2 separate regions of the Homo sapiens genome follow, and region 1 is linked to region 2. Evidence: fine-mapped expression QTL. A gene starts in region 2. The other region holds a variant in brackets. All regions are shown on one strand. Distances are between the middles of the regions. Region 1 holds the start of RANBP10 (RAN binding protein 10). Region 2 holds the start of LRRC36 (leucine rich repeat containing 36).

Region 1 (8,328 bases), 480 kb before region 2:
CTCTCCAGGCTGATGGAGCTGGTCATATTTTGCAGTACCCAGAGGCTATACACCTGAGTACAGGCAGAAGCTACCCAGAGGATGATCTCTCCAGGCTTCTAAAGTATTTCTTTACTTGTTCAATGGTAATATTACTACTTTATACAGTTGTTGTGAGGATTAAATATGGTACGTAGGCCGGGTGTGGGGGTTCACGCTTGTAATCCCAGTTTGAGAGGTCGAAGTGGGAGGGTCGCTTGAGTCTAGGAGTTCGAAACCAGCCTGGGCAACGTGGTGAAACCTCGTCTCTACAAAAAACAAACGAACAAAGAAACACCCAAAAATTAGCCAAGCGTAGTGGCGCATGCCTGTAGTCCCAGCTACTCGGGAGGCTGAGGTAGAAGGATCGCTTGAGCCCGGGAGGTCGAGGCTGCAGTGAGCCGTAGTAGTGCCACTGCACTCCAGCCTGGGCGACAGAACGAGATCTTGTCTCAAAAATAAAATATTTAAAAATGTGGTATATAAAGCATTTGGCATATAGTACATTCAATACAAGCTGGTTGTTACTAGTAATGATAAAGTGCGCCTACCGTTTTGCTAGCACGTAACGTCTTCACTGGGCTAAATCAGCCCGATTCTAACCATTGACTCTGTGGTGCTGGAGCCCTAGATCAATGGTCAGAGGCCAGCAGGAGGTGCAGAGGTCCGGATCAAGTGCCATTTCCCTCTCTAGAAGTACTCAAACCCTCATCTCTGCCCTCATCCCTGCCAGCGCCTACCTCGACGCGGACGAGAAGCTGTGGTACCGCGACTGCTGGCAGGCCATGACCCACGGGCAGGCGGGCAATCAGCACCCGCGGCCTGGGAAGCTGTGGTAGCGTACAGCCGGTCGCCATGGCGACCAGGCCCCAGAGGCCCCCCCGCGGCGGGGGCGGAGTCAGGGATGCGCCACGCCCCCGAGCCTAGCGCCCGCGGGCTGGGAGTAGGACAAAGTAGCAAAGGTGGACTGGGACCCGGCAGCGGGTGCCCTGAGAGTCAACCACTACAGCCGATTTGACCCCAGGTACCAGAACTGAGGCAGGGGGATGAACAGAGGCCATGGGGAGGGAAGTGTGCTGAGAGGCCGGAGCCGCTTTGCCGGCGGGAATGGTAGTTTTCGGTGTCCCGACGTCTCGATGGGACAGGCTTATGGCTGAGGACGGTTATACTACATCTCCCAGAATTCTCTACCAGCCCGAGTTGCTCCGCCTCTCGAGAGCTCTGCATTGTGGGGTATGGAGTTCGAAATGTGGTAAGGCGTGTCAGTGTCCAAAGAGGGGTGCCGGACTCGGACTCGGTTTCCCTGCGGCCCAGGGAGGCTCACGGGCCATTGGCTGAGCGGGGCGGATCTGGTCCCGCTCCTCCCCGCCCCCAGTGACACAATAGTAGCTCCCTCCAAGATGGCGGCAGCGACGGCAGACCCGGGAGCTGGGAACCCGCAGCCTGGGGACTCCTCCGGCGGGGGCGCTGGGGGCGGGCTGCCGTCCCCTGGGGAGCAGGAGCTGAGCCGGCGCTTGCAGCGCCTGTATCCCGCGGTCAACCAGCAAGAGACTCCGCTGCCGCGCTCCTGGAGCCCCAAGGACAAATACAACTACATTGGTCTCTCCCAGGGCAACCTCCGCGTCCACTACAAAGGTATCGGCCCGTCAGGCTGGGGGGAATTAAGGCTAGAGCGTCCGTGGGGTGGCTCTGCTGCCAGGCCCCCGCCCTATCACCTCCCTTTCCCTGCCTAGGTGCTCCAAGTTAGGGCTTGGCCCTTTCAGGATGTCCAGGGTGGTGAGGCTGAACAGGCCGAGGGCTGACTGCCTGTTCTCTGTCCTGAGACACCTGCCGTCAAGAGAACCGCAACAGGTGTCCAAACCCAGTGCTGGGCCGGACCTTCCACTCCAGGGCCTCCGTGCTTATCCTAGGCTGGCGCCAACGGCAGCGGGACCTTTCGCCACTGCTTAGAAGAAAGGGGTGGTCACATACCTACCATTAGCGTGAGACTCATGGGCTTCCCCACCTGCCAGGCATCCTAGACTGAGCCTGGGGTTCCGTGCTAGAGTTTGGGGGGTGTCTTCCAGGTCGGCCTCATCCTTCTTCCCCTGGCCTCCCAGGTGGGCTGCCTGGATTCTAGAGAGGCTGCCAGCAGCACTTGAGTATCTCTCACATTGCCTCTACCCTTGTTTTGTTTGTATGGGCAGTGTCTCAGGCAGGACTGCTGTTCTCAGGAGGAGGTGAGGCAAAGGTGGAAGGTTTAAGTGTTTATTCAGTTGTCTAATGATTCCTCGGCCTGTGTAAGTGCGTCCTCTGGCCACAGAGGAGTGGAGTTGTCATGGAGGAGTTGCAGAGAAAAATGAGGCTTCCATTTGCATTTCCTTCTGCTGAAATTTCTTACTTGCCCTCTCCTGTTAGGTCATGGCAAAAATCACAAAGATGCGGCCTCAGTGCGTGCCACCCACCCCATACCTGCTGCCTGTGGCATTTATTACTTTGAAGTGAAGATTGTCAGCAAAGGAAGAGATGGGTAAGCCCTTCATGACCACCCTCTTTCCCTGATCATGGAGCTGATCCCTGTGGTCAGAGTTCAGGTCCTTTGGCTGGCACTTGTTGCTGATGTGAGCTGGGGAGCCGCATGGGTCTGGGCTGCCATTATTTCCTGACTGTGGGCATGGTCTGGTCTAAGCAGCAGATCTTGATGGCCAGTGGGTGTGTTGGGGGTAAAGCAGGGATTATTTTTAGTGATGATGTAATTTGATACCTAGAAGGTTAGGCAAACAAGTAACAAGTTTACTTTAAAAATTTAGTGTCCAGAATGGAGTTTCCCTCATGAGCATGTGGTGTTTTTGTGACTTCCTTCCTTTCACATTCTTGCTGTATTCATGAGGTTCTTTTTTATGGCATTTAGTCATGTGGAGGCCCTGGTAGCCTTCAAAGAGATAGTAGAGTCTTTGCAGCATTCATGAAAGCTTCTGTGGCCACCGGCCTGTCATCTCAGGGTAAACAGCATACACATGATCAGAATCAGGTGACCTTGCTGCTCATAAACTTGTTTTTCAGTCCAAGGACTTGAACACTACTAGTTGGATCAACTTTAGGAAGGTCCTCATTAAAGTCAGCATTAGGAGCCAGGCACGGTGGCTCACGCCTGTAATCCCAGCAATTTGGGAGGCTAAGATGGGCAGATCACCTGAGGTCAGGAGTTGGAGACTAGCCTGGCAAACATGCTGAAACCCTGTCTCTACTAAAAATACAAAAAAATTAACTGGCATACCTGTAATCCTATCACTTCAGAAGACCGAGGCGGGCGGATCACTTGAGATCAGGAGTTCAAGACCAGCCTGGCCAGCATGGTAAAACCCCATCTCTAAAAAAAAATTCAAAAATTAGCTGGGTGTGGTGGTGTGCACCTGTAATCCCAGCTACTTGGGAGGCTGAGGCATGAAAATCACTTGAACATGGGAGGTGGAGGTTGTAGTGAGCTGAGATTGCACCACTGCACTCTAGCCTGGGCAATAGAGTGAGACTCTGTCCCAAAACCAAACAAAAAAAAAAGTCAGCATTAGGGAGACTCCCTATTTTAGGATGATCCAAGCAGACACAGGAAATCATAGGGGAGATACTTAATTTTTTTTCTTTCTCCCAGTCTCCCTTTTTTTCCCAGTGATTGTGACGAAGCAGGTGTGTAAGTTATGAAGTAACATGACTGCAGCTACCTTGGAAAGGCTTTCCTCATCAGACTTTAGGTTTGGTGTCTGAAGTTTGCCAACCCCTCTGGTGACCATGCCAACGCTGAGGGTGTGTTCTCGAACATTCAGAACTTCTTTCTCCTAGGGACTGTCCCCTTTGTAGTGCATGCAAAATGCTTGGCCAAGGGACTAGGCTGGGGGCAACACTGCCAGAGTCAGAGCCTTGCCTACTTCCTCAGTGATGTAACTTCTCTGCCTGAGAGGTCTCTGTGGTCTTGGGTAGATGTTGGAGCTTCAGTCTCCTGATCTGCACTGTGAGGATCCAGGCCAGCATCTAAGCTGCCTGAACTCCAGAATTCTATGCCTCTGAAATTCTGATCATGGGAAGCTGCTGTATCTTTCTCTCTCTCTCTCTTTTTTTTTTTTTTTTTTTTTAATGAGATGGGGTCTTGCTCTGTCTCCCACGCTGAAGTGCAGTGGCAAGATCACAATCACAGCTCACTGCAGCCTCGACCTTCTGGGCTCGAGTTATCCTCCCACCTCAGCCTCCTGAGTAACTGGGAATACAGGTGCATGCCACCACGCCTGGCTAATTTTTTTTTTTTTTTTTTTTTTGAGACGGAGTTTTGCTCCTGTTGCCCAGGCTGGAGTGCAATGGCGCAATCTCAGCTCACCACAACCTCCGCCTCCCAGGTTCAAGTAATTCTCCTGCCTCAGCCTCCTGAGTAGCTGGGCTTACAGGCATGTGCCACCACACCAGGCTAATTTTGTATTTTTAGTAGAGATGGGGTTTCTCCATGTTGGTCAGGCTGGTCTCAAACTCCTGACCTCAGGTGATTCGCCTGCCTTGGCCTCCCAAAGTGCTGGGATTACAGGTGTGGGCCACCGCACCCAGCCTAATTTTTTAAATTATTTGTAGAGATGAGGTCTTGCTATGTTGCCCAGGCTGGTCTCTAGTGATCCTCCCACCTTGGCCTCTCAAACTGCTGGGACTACAGGCATGAGCTACTGCACCCGGCCATCTTTCATTTTTATCCCCATCTAGTGCGTTTACAGACAGGAAAGTTAAATTTATGGGAGGGCTTCAAAGCTCCTATTTTCACCTTCCACCGTCTGATAGAAGCACATATATTTAGTGTGCTTGAACTAGTGTGAATGAGAATAGCCCCTTAAAACAAGCACCTTGAAAATAATGTTGACTAAAATGGTGGTGCTGGAGTCTCATACTGCCACAGAAACTGAAGTGCACTTCTTAAATTTGTAGGGAGGAAAATGGATTGTTTTCTCCTAGTCTTTATCATAGATAACAGCTGAGTTAGTTATCTAGGTAGAGAGCAGAGACCAACTTCAGAAGGGAAGTGTTTACACTTAGA[G/A]ACCTGGATTCTTTTTTTCTTTTTGTATTTTTTGAGAGATGAGGTCTGGCTATGTTGGAGATCTGGATTCTTTCAACTGGTTTTAACATTTCAGTTTTAGTCGATCTTGCTGTGTCATGTTAGATTGGTGAACTATAGGTGTTGACTGGAAGTCTAAAGAAAGGTGGGCATCTATTCCCAGCATTTTACATGTGGTAAACATGGCTGTTGAGCTGATCTGGAAACATCAGATGTTAATTAATTAATTTATTTATTTGCCACACAGTCTCCTTTATCATCCAGGCTGGAGTGCATTGACTCAATCTCGGCTCATTGCAACCTCTACTTTCTGGGTTCAAGTGATTCTCCTGCCTCAGCCTCCCGAGTAGCTGGGATTACAGGCATACGCCACCACGCCTGGCTAATTTTTGTATTTTTAGTAGAGATGGGGTTTCGCCATGTTGGCCAGGCTGGTTTCGAACTCCTGACCTCAGGTGATTCACCTGCGTCAGTCTCCCAAAGTGCTAAGATTACAGGCATGAGCCATGGTGCCCAGCAAGGAAACATCAGTTTTAGAAAGGTCTCAGGTCATGTATACCTGTGGTATCCTGCTTCAGTTGACCACTGTCAGATGGCAAGAGTATGAATAGCTCCTCATGGTCTCTTTATGGAATCCCTGAAAGCCTTCCCATGGCTGGGATGCAGCCACATGTTAGTATGGGCCAGGTGGGTTTTGAGGAGGCCAAAGGCAGTTACACAGGGCAGGCAGACATCAACTGGCTCATTTCCCTTTTTTTGTAGATTTTTTTTTTTTTTTTTGAGGCAGGGTCTCGCTCTGTTGCTCAGGCTGGAGTGCAATGGCATGATCACAGCTCACCGCCACCTCAACTTCCTGGGCTCAGTCAATCCTCCCACCTCAGCTTCCTGAGTAGCTGGGACTATAGGTGTGTGCCATCATGCTTGGCTCATTTTCTTATTTTTTGTAGAGATGGGGTCTCACAATGTTTCCTAGGCTGGTCTTGAATTCCTGGGCTCAAGTATTTCTTCCACCTCAGCCTTCCAAAGTGCTGGGATTATAGTCATGAGCCACCATGCCCAGCTGATTTTTTTTTTAACTATTTTATAGAGATGGGATCTTGCTGTGTTGTCTAGGCTGGTCTCCAACTCCTAGCCTCAAGTGATCCTCCTGCCTCAAAGTGATCCAAAGTGCTGGGATTGCAGGCAGGAGCCACCATTGTCAGCCTCCCATGGATTTTGGAGGTGTGTTTTTTATCCTGGTTTAGTCCATGACCCAAGCATTAACTGGTTGTCTAGCTTTCCTGTGTTACCTAGTTTGATCCTCACAGCATCTCTGGCAAGTGGCTAGAGCAGGTGATCATCTACCTTCCCATTTTGTGAGTGAGCCCTGAGTCCCTGGGATGTTTGGTGGCCTACCCTGGCTGCAGGGCTTAGGGTGTGCAGTGGAGTAGCCTGACTTATCAGATGTCCTCGCCTGATCCTAGACACACATGTCCATGCTGCTGCTGCCTTTCCCCATTGTAGCTGTTGCATTTCTTCCCTGGGTAGAGTGAAGGAATGTTCTGTTGGATTCCTACCAGATTGCAATGTTAGGGGACAGAGCTGAAAGGTGCATGGTGCTGTGTAGGGCCAGAGAATTGTGGCATGCTCTGGGCCGGGCTTGATCAACTTACTGTTCCATTTAATCTGTAAACTTGCTTTTCTGTAGATTTGAGTACACCTCCTTTGTAAAAGGTATTTATAAACCCAGTTGTTAGTGTCATTGTTCTCCAGAACGTCCTTTGTTTTGACAATATCTTTTGGAGAAGAACACACTAAGCTAGTCTAATAAGGAAAGTTTCATGTCAAGATTTCACAGAATATTTATATATACCTACTATGTTCCAGGCCCTATACTAGGTATAGGGAGAACAGATGTAAAGCCAGCACAGATCAGCTTTGTCCTCAGGAAGCCTGTGGCCCATTCAGTAGAGAGTGGACTGAAAGTCTTTCTGCAAGAGGAGGCAGAGCCTGGGAACAGTTGGGAGGAATGAGTAGGAGTTCCCCAGTAGGCGAGACCTGTTAGACCTATGAGTCTGATGGGTAACTAGCTTGACTTCTGGGTGCTAGGCTTTCTGGGCACTCCTCAAGTATAAGAGAGCTCTGTGGAGTAGGAGGGGCTGTGTTTGAGCTAAGAGCTTGGCACAGACTGATGGGCTTCAACTGCATTTTGCCGAGTCACCAGAGCTGTGAACTCGGGGAGCGGGTCTGGTGGGGTGAGGAGACATCAGAGCACTGCCAGTGGTGCCAGGAGATAAGGGGCATCCAGGTCTGTCTTTCTAGGAAGCGAAGGAGGGCCTGAAGCTGAGGGTCCCTGGGGAGGAGCAATGTCTGCAGGCAGAGTTCATGGACCTGTGGGTGTCCCTGGCTCTTAGTGATGACACATGGAGGGTGTGGCTGGCTAGGCTGACAGATGCTCCAGTGTGACCCTCAAAATAGACTGTAACATCATCCCAGCGGCGGAGGCCTCCTGACATGTGATGGTTGCTTTACCCAAGAGTAGTAGGCCTGGGCTAGAGCACTGGAAGGCATGGAGAGGGGTGGGGGCATTTTCCTCTGTAGCCAGTGTCTGGGCCCAGGCCCAGAGCAGGGGTCTCTGACCACAGCCAGCCTTCCCTTGCTCCTGCAGCTGACTTCCTTTGGCCAGGCAGCAGTGCACTCATTCATTCATTCCAGACACCAGGGCGCAGTACCCATTGTTTTTTTTTTTTGGTTGTTGTTGTTGTTGTTGTTTTTGAAACAGAGTCTCGCTCTGTTGCCAGGCTGGAGTGCAGTGGCACAATCTTGGCTCACTGCAAACCTCCGCCTCCTGGGTTCAAGTGATTCCCCTGCCTCACCCTCCCGAGTAGCTGGGACTACAGGCGTGCACCACCATGCCCAGCTAGTTTTTGTATTTTTAGTAGAGACGGTGTTTCACCATGTTGGCCAGGATGTTCTAGATCTCTTGACCTCATGATCTGCCCTCCTCAGCCTCCCAAAGTGCTAGGATTACAGGTGTGAGCCATCACATCCATTGTTTTGTCCCAGCCTGGGCCCCAGGAGCACAGGCATGAGGCCCCACCGGTGGTGTCGAAGGGTCAGGCCACCGTATGTGTCATATCCAGGGGTGGCCTGGAGGATGGACTGTACCTCAGAGTTTGAGGAAAACATCATAGAATCATATAAGAGGTGATGTGGGCTCTGGAAAGAGGAGTTAGAGTGTTCTAGGTGAACAAAGTGAGAAGCAGATG
Region 2 (8,328 bases):
AGGATAAACTGAACATCAATTATGATAAGAACTATAATGGATTAAAACTTACATTGAAATATATTGCTATGGTTTGAACGTCCCCTCCAAAACTCATGATGAAATGTATTAATTTATTCAGAGATAGGGCCTTGCTCTGTCAACTAGGCTGGAGGGCAGTAGCACTATCATAGTGCACTGCAGCCTAAAACTCCTGGGGTCAGAGGATCCTTCCACTTCAGCCTCCTGAGTAGCTGGGACTACAGGTACACACCACCAACACCCAGTTAATTTTTAAATTTTTTGTAGAGACAGGATCTTGCTGTGTTGCCCAGGCTGGTCTCAAATACCTGGCCTCATCCTCCTCCCTGGCCTTCCAAAGTGTGTAAGCCGCCATGCCCAGCTTTCATGTTGAAACGTAATTGCCAATGTAACAGCACTGCGAGGTGGGGCCTCTAAGAGGTGATTAGGTCAACGGTGGCTTCATGCTGTTATCATGGAGTTAGTTATCACGGGAGTTAGCTATCCTAATAAAGGAATTAGTTCAGTCTTCTCTCTCTCTCTCTCTCTCTCTCTCTCTCTCTCTCTCTCTCTCTTTCTCTCTCACATCTCACACATGCACCTTCTGCCCTTCCACCATGGAATGACCCTCACCAGATGTTGGCACCATGCTCTTGGACTTCTCAGCCTCCAGAACCATGAGCCAAATCAACTTCTGTTCTTTATAAATTACCTAGTCTATGGTATTCTGTTATGACAAGAGAAAAGGGACTAAGACATTTATTTATTTATTTATTTATTTAGACTGAGTCTCAGTCTTTCGTCCAGGCTGAAGTGCAGTGGTGCGATCTCAGTTCACTGCAACCTCTGCTTCCCAGGCTCAAGTGATTCTCCTGCCTCAGCCTCCTGAGTAGCTGGGATTATAGGCACCTGCCACCATGCCGGGCTAATTTTTTTTGTATTTTTAGTACAGATGAGGTTTCACCATGTTGGACAGACTGGTCTTGAACTCCTGACCTCAGGTGATCCATCCTCCTTGGCCTCCCAAAATGCTGGGATTACAGGCGTGAACGACCATGCCCAGCCCTAAGACATATATTTAAATCGATGAGTTTATAATGATACTGAGAAAGCAAAACAGTCCTCACTGGTCACCTTTGGAGAATGCTAAGAAAATAACTCATCATTCTGAAAGCTGGCATATAAGGTGAAAACAAATCAAGCTTTTATGCTGCCTTTCCTATACAAACTGTACCTCAGGATAAGCAAACAGTTGATGTGAGGAAATTTCTCTTTATAGAAGTATTACAGTTAATGAAGAAAAATGAAAGAAATAGACAATTACCATTTTGCAATCCCTAATGAATTAACTTAGGTAATCATATTCAGTGGCTGATATCACGAAAAGAAAGAACACTAGGCACCATATACTTCCTAACATAAACATACACCATTACCTATGAAATCGTCTTGTGAAAAAAAAAAAATCCAACCTGAATCTGATTAAGCCTCATCTAACTACCAATTCATAGGAAGTACAGGGAACACGGGAAAATGTTTAACATCTTAGGAATGCAATGAGCAAAGTTCAGGTTATAGTAAACTCTTTCAAAGCCAGTTTCTTCAAAAACAATTGAAAATGCGAGGGAAAAAAAATGGGGAGCCTACAGATCAAATAAGACTTAAGACATACATCAACCAATTGCAATATATGGACCATATACGGATTCTTATTTTATTTTATTTTTTAGATGGAGACTTGCTCTGCCACCCAAGCTGGAGTGCAGTGACGCGATCTCAGCTCACTACAACCTCCGTCTCCCGGGTTCAAGCGATTCTCCTGCCTCAGCCTCCCAAGTAGTTGGGATTACAGGTGTGAGCCACCATGTCCAGCTAATTTTTGTATTTTTAATAGAGATGGGGTTTCACCATGTTGGCCTGGCTGGTCTTGAACTCCTGGCCTCAAGTGATCCACCCACCTTGGCCTCCCAAAGTGCTGGGATTACAGGCATGAGCCAACGCACCCGGCCATGGATTCTAATTTTAAAAAATTATAGGACAACTGGGGAAATAAGAACACTAGTTAGATATTTCATGATATCAAGAAATCACTGTTCACTTTAGGAGGCTGAGTCACTTGAGGTCAGGAGTTCAAGACTAGCCTGGCTAGCATGGTGAAACCCCGTCTCTACTAAAAATACAAAAAAATTAGCCAGGCATGGTGGCACATGCCTGAAATCCCAGCTACTCAGGAAGCTGAGGCAGGAGAATTGCTTGAACCCTGGAGGCAGAGGTTGCAGTGAGCTGAGATCATGCCACTGCACTCCAGCCTGGGCAACAGAGCCAGACTCCATCTCAAAAACAAAACAAAACCAAAAAAAGAAATTACTGTTAAATTTTTTAGGTTGCATATGTGACTTTTTTTTAAAGTAATCTTAGCTTTTAAAAATACATACTGGCCAGGTGCTGTGGCTTGCACTTATAATCCCAACTCTTAGGGAGGCTGAGGTGGGTGGATCACTTGAGGTCAGGAGTTCAAGACCAGCTTGGCCAACATGGCAAAACCCTGTCACTACTGAAAATACAAAATTAGCCGGGCGTGGTGGCGGGTGCCTGTAGTCCCAGCTACTTGGGAGGCTGAGGCAGAAGAATCGCTTGAAATGCGGAGGTGGAGATTACAGTGAGCCGAGATCACGCCACTGCCCTAGAGCCTGGGTGACAGAGCAAAACTCTATCTGAAAAATAATAAAAACAATAAATAAATAAAATACTACTGAAATATTTATGGAGGAAATCACATACTTGGAATTTGCTTCAAAATAGTCAGTGTAGGGGGTTGGAGGTGGGTGGAGGATAGGTGAGGTATACGTGAAAGAAGCTTGGCCATGAATTGATGATAACTGTTGAGGTAGGCTAATAGAGTTCATTATTCTGTTATCTCTACTCTTGTATATATTTGAAAATTGCCATAATATAAAATTATAAAATAAGTGATAAATGCTTATATATGTAGAGAATATTTCTGGAAAACTATCCAAGATACTGGTAACAGTAATTGCCTTTAGGAAGGGGAACTAGGCCTATGAGACGGGGATGGGGGAGTAAAGACTTTCTTCTCACTGTACAATTTTTATTTTATTTATTTATTTTTTCGAGACGGAGTCTCACTCTGTCACCCAGGCTGGAGTGCAGTGGCGCGATCTCGGCTCACTGCAAGCTCCGCCTCCTGGGTTCACGCCATTCTCCTGCCTCAGCCTCCCGAGTAGCTGGGACTACAGGCGCCCGCCACCATGCTCCGCTAATTTTTTTTGTATTTTTAGTAGAGACGGGGTTTCACTGTGTTAGCCAGGATGGTCTCGATCTCCTGACTCGTGATCCGCCCGCCTCGGCCTCCCAGAGTGCTGGGATTACAGTCGTGAGCCACCGCGCCTGGCCCTCACTGTACAATTATTATATTACCCACAGAATAAATTAATTGAATTATTTTAACAGTCAAAATGAGTAAATATTACATATTTCCCCCCTCTACCAAATTAATCATTAGACTACCGACATGCTCTAGTATATCCTTCCTGTTCTGTTCTTGACTGCACATCATACGCTTCAGCTACCATCTATTTCTGCAGTCTCTTTTACAGCTAAAATTTTCAGCAAAAGTTCTTACTTTCACTGTCTCTTCCCCTCAAATATCATTTCCCTTTTTCATCCCACTCCAATCTGGTTTCCCTCCTCCCCACCCTCCCAAAACTCCCTCTGTCAAGGTCACCAGTAAGTTCCATGTTGCTAAATCTAACAGACACTCTGCATTTAAGTTGCTCAGCCTGTCAATAGCATTTGGCACAGTTGGCCATTGCTTGCTCGATACACTACCCCTTCTCAAATTCCAAGATACCACATTCTTCCTCTATACAACCTCTAAACACTGAAATATTCCAAGGTTGAGTCTTAAGCTTTCTTTCACTTCTCCATCGACATTCTCTCCTTAGCTGAGTTCATCCACTCCCGTAGCTTTAAATACCACCTATTGCTAATGTCTCCAAAATTTTCATCTCTAACCCTGACCTCTCCTCTGAGGTCCAGACCCATATATCCAACTGCCTACTAGGTACCTTACACTTGGATGTCTAATAGACATTTTATTATTTATTTATTTTATTTATTATTATTATTTTTGAGATGGAGTCTCGCTCTGTCGCCCAGGCTGCAGTGCAGTGGTGCGATCTCGGCTAACTGCAACCTCCGCCTCCCGGGTTCAAGCGATTCTCCTGCCTCAGCCTCCCGAGTAGCTGGGATTATAGACTTGAACCACCACGCCGGGCTAATTTTTGTATTTTAGTAGAGACGGGGTTTCACCATGTTGGCCACGCTCAGGTGATCCACCCGCCTCCGCCTCCCAAAGTGCTGGGATTACAGCGGTCAGCCACCGCCCCCCGCAGTTCTGTCACCTGCGGCAGGGTCCCCTGTTAACCTTGTTTCTCCTTCCCTACTTCACACTCCCCTCTTCTCTCTCAATTCCTCGGGCTCTGCCCCACACCCTCCCGTTACTTCAGTTCCTCCACCTCCACCTCCCTCTAACCTTCTGCCTCAAGTTATCCCCCCGCCCCCCAGCCTCAGGTACCGCTTCTCTGTGGTTCCCTCGCCTCTATCTCAGGTTCCCCGCCTTCCACTTCAGTTTTCTTTCCACAGCTTCTGACCCTACGTTCCCAGTCCACACCCTCCCGGCCAGACCCTACCCGGCTGCTCCAGCGTCAGCGCCCCCAGGCGGCGAATGCCTTCCTCGTCCAGCTCCCATTGCTCCGCCATCCCCGCCCGCCGCTCACCTGCCACCGCCCGCGAGACCACCCGGCGCACGCCAGGCCCCGCCCACTGCCCCGCCCCCCGCGCGCGCGCCGCCGCGACCCCGGGAACCGTTATTGGCCGGGTCACAAGCCCGCCCGCCCGCTGCTGGAGCCGCGACCATGGTACGGAGCCCGCTCTGGCGGGGGCGCCAAAAGCACCAAAGCGGCGAATGGGGGCCGCTGTGGCCAAGGATTGGGGCTAAGTGGTTCGAGACCTGGCTCTGGGGCATGGGAGAGAGCGAGGGGCCCCCAGCCGGGAAGGATTTGGGGGGCTGGCTCTGAGGAGTTAGAATAACGCTCTGTCTTGAGGGATGAAGTGTTCTGGCTCTGAGGATGTGGGGGACTCCGGTTCTGAGGGCTGGGCGTGTGCCCCTTTGACGGGGTGGTCTTCATATCTCAGCGCTGGGGGATGCTGACTTTGGGGCAAGGCGAGGGTGTGTGTGAAGGGGAGATCCAAATCTGAAGGATTGGAGCGTGGGGACAGAACTCTAAGGCATGATGGGGAGCTCCAGATCTGAAAGGTTGGGAATCCTGGCTCTGAGGAGTTGGGGTCCTGTCTTTAGAGCATGAGGAAGTTCTAGCTCTAGAAATTGACTTGGACGGGCTGGGCGCGGTGTCTCACGCCTGTAATCCCAGCACTTTGGGAGCCCGAGGTGGGCGGATCACCTGAGGTCAAGAGTTCAAGACCAGCCTGGCCAACATGGTGAAACCCCATCTCTACTAAAAATACAAAAATTAGCCGGGTGTGGTGGCACGGCCTGTAGTCCCAGCTACTCGGGAGGCTGAGGCAGGAGAATCGCTTGAACCCGGGAGGTGGAGGTTGCAGTGAACCGAGATTGCACCACTGCACTCCAGCCTGGGCGACCTGAGTGACAGAGCCAGACCTTGTCTCAAAAAAAAAAAAAAAAAAAAGGTAAGAAATTTACTTGGACGGAGCTTCTTCGGGGGAGAAGGATCAGCGTGGGAAAGAGAGAAGCTCTTTGTAATGGGGTGGGGATGACTGCTTTAGGGCTACCCCGTTTCCTGAAGTCAGTCCGGCAAGAAGCCTTTTGTCTTTCAAGCACCACAGGTTCCCCTAAGCTTGCCTGTGACTGAGGGCTGTCGCCAGGCTGCGATAGCTCTGCACTAACCAGCCCCTGAGTAGTCTTTGGGAAAGAACAGCCGCATCCCTAACCCCTACCCTCACTCCAGCAGGCACTTAAGAGCCCACCTGTGGATGGGACATGTATGTAAGAAGGAGCCAGGACCCTCTTGTCACACCCTATCCTTAACAAGAAAAGAGGGTGGGCTGGGCGTGGTGGCTCACGTCTGTAATCCCAGCACTTTGGGAGGCCGAAGCATGTGGATCACGAGGTCAGGAGATCGAGACCATCCTGGCTAACACAGTGAAACCCCATCTCTACTAAAAATACAAAAATAAAACAAAATAAAATAAAATAAAATAAAATAAAGCCGGGCGTGGTGGCGGGCGCCTGTAGTCCCAGCTACTTGAGGAGGCTGGAGGCTGAGGCAGGAGAATGGCGTAAACCCGGGAGGTGGAGCTTGCAGTGAGCCAAAATCGTGCCACTGCACTCCAGCCTGGGCTAGAGAGCGAGACTCCGTCTCAAAAAAAAAAAAAAAGAAAAAAAGAAAAAAAGAAAAAAAAGAAAGAAAGAAAAGAGGAACTGAGACCAGAACTGGGGCTCACCTTCGAGAAGTAGGTTTTCTTTGGCATCCAACATCTGCACACTCTGAGCACCCCCATTGAGCTCTCAGCCACCTTTAAGGAGAACAGAAAGCAGAATCAAGGGTCCTTCCTTGCATATTTATGCTTTCTGGTCTATGTGAGACCCTTAGTCACTCCATTTGTTACATTCAGCCTTTGCCTGAACATGAACTTGTAGAAAGGCTTTTAGAAGGGCTGGGACTTAGAATTCTAGGTTAGCTCATTAGATTGACTTTTCTGGCTCTGCTTCTGTCAGTTATGCAATCATTTCACAATTTGTCATATTTCTCTTATTACCCCCTTTAACTCTTCTAGTCTCAAATGTGGCATATATAATTGCTCTTCTTTATGTCTGAATATTGCTGTGGGAGAGATGGACCCCATCCCATTCTTTCTTGCATGCATTTATTTTCCTTCCTCAGCTGTCAGAATGGGAAATGCAGGTTCTTTCTGGAGCAGGGAGCTTTTCCTTTCTTAAGTAATCACCTCTTACTTTAACACTGTTTTTCCCCCACGAACGTCTTAATGCAATTTTATAAACACAGAAAGATTGAAAGAATTGTACAGTGAGCACCATATATCCACCACCTGCATTCTACAATCAACATTTTGCTCATATTTGTTTTATCACATGTCCATCTAGCAATCCTATCTGTCCATCAATCTGTCTTTTTTAAATTCATCTCAAAATAAATTGCAGATATCAGTACATTGCAGTCCAATCACTTCAGCCTGCATAATTTTTAATTAGAATTCGATATTGTTTTATGGTTCTTTTTAGGTAAAATTCTATATACTATTTACTACCCTTTAAAAAATATTTTTACAAGGGTAGTGCCCTTTATTTTAAAATTTGATATGGATGGTTTGTATGTTTGATGGCTCTCTACTTTTCCATCGTATTGATAAACTAGGTCATCTTGAAACAAAGAAGACAATTCACTTATAAATAGATGACCTTAAACTTTTTTTTCAACAACCTCTTGTCCAACAGATGTACAGATGACCTTAAACTTTTTTTTCAACAACCTCTTGTCCAACAGATATACAGATGACCTTAAACTTTTAACAATGAGCTGAGGAAGGTTAGTGATCTTTGCTGCCTTTGTATATATGAAAAGGTATCTATAGCATTCATCCTCCAGTAATGTAATGTCTCTGCAGGTAAGATCCCAAGAGAGTTCTGCATGCGCTCCATGGAATGGACAGTACCTCATCTTTTTTTTTTTTTGTAGATCTATTGAGATATAATTCACATACCATACAATTCACACATTTTAATGTGTACAATTCAGTGAGTTTTAGTATGTTCAGAGTTGTGCAACTATCATCACAATCAATTTTAGAACATTTTCACCATCCCCAAAAGAAATCCCATACTCATTAGTAGTCACACCCCATCTCCCCATAGCCTCTCCAGCCCTAGGCAACCACTAATCTATTTTCTATCTCTAGAAATTTGCCTTGTCCACACATTGCATGTGGATGGAATCATATGTGATTTTTTGTTTGGCTTCTTTCCCTTGGCATAATGTTTCGAATTTCATCCATGTTGTTATCATGTATCAGTACTTCATTCCTTTTTATTTTTTATTTTTTTAGAGACGTGCCTCACTCTGACGCCCAGGCTGGAGTGCAATGGCACGATCACAGCTCACTGCAGCCTCAAACTCCTGGGCTCAAGTGAATCTCCTGCCTCAGCCTTCCAAAGTGCTGGGATTACAAGCACAAGCCACCATGTTCATCCCATTCCTTCGTATTGACAAACAATATTCCATTGTGTGGATATACTACATTTTGTTTACT

What was found.
Region 1: its variant is fine-mapped to the expression of LRRC36 in pancreas (GTEx, PIP above 0.99).

What each region holds. Positions count from the first base shown.
Region 1 is chr16:67,799,627-67,807,954 of GRCh38, reverse strand. RANBP10 (RAN binding protein 10) reads left to right here and starts at 1,395. Exons shown (of 14, transcript NM_020850.3): 1 at 1,395-1,653; 2 at 2,416-2,527. The coding sequence starts at 1,419. It overlaps TSNAXIP1 (translin associated factor X interacting protein 1), which reads right to left and starts at 1,066. Exons shown (of 16, transcript NM_001288990.3): 1 at 759-1,066. The coding sequence starts at 805. RefSeq lists silencers at 837-956, 1,457-1,676 and enhancers at 1,097-1,326, 1,032-1,651, 1,652-2,272, 5,727-5,806. The variant G/A (reference allele first, on the strand shown) is at 5,063.
Region 2 is chr16:67,323,317-67,331,644 of GRCh38, reverse strand. It overlaps LRRC36 (leucine rich repeat containing 36), which reads right to left and starts at 4,830. Exons shown (of 14, transcript NM_018296.6): 1 at 4,713-4,830. The coding sequence starts at 4,782. It overlaps KCTD19 (potassium channel tetramerization domain containing 19), which reads left to right and starts at 4,904. Exons shown (of 16, transcript NM_001100915.3): 1 at 4,904-4,940. The coding sequence starts at 4,938. RefSeq lists a silencer at 4,788-4,937 and an enhancer at 6,693-6,772.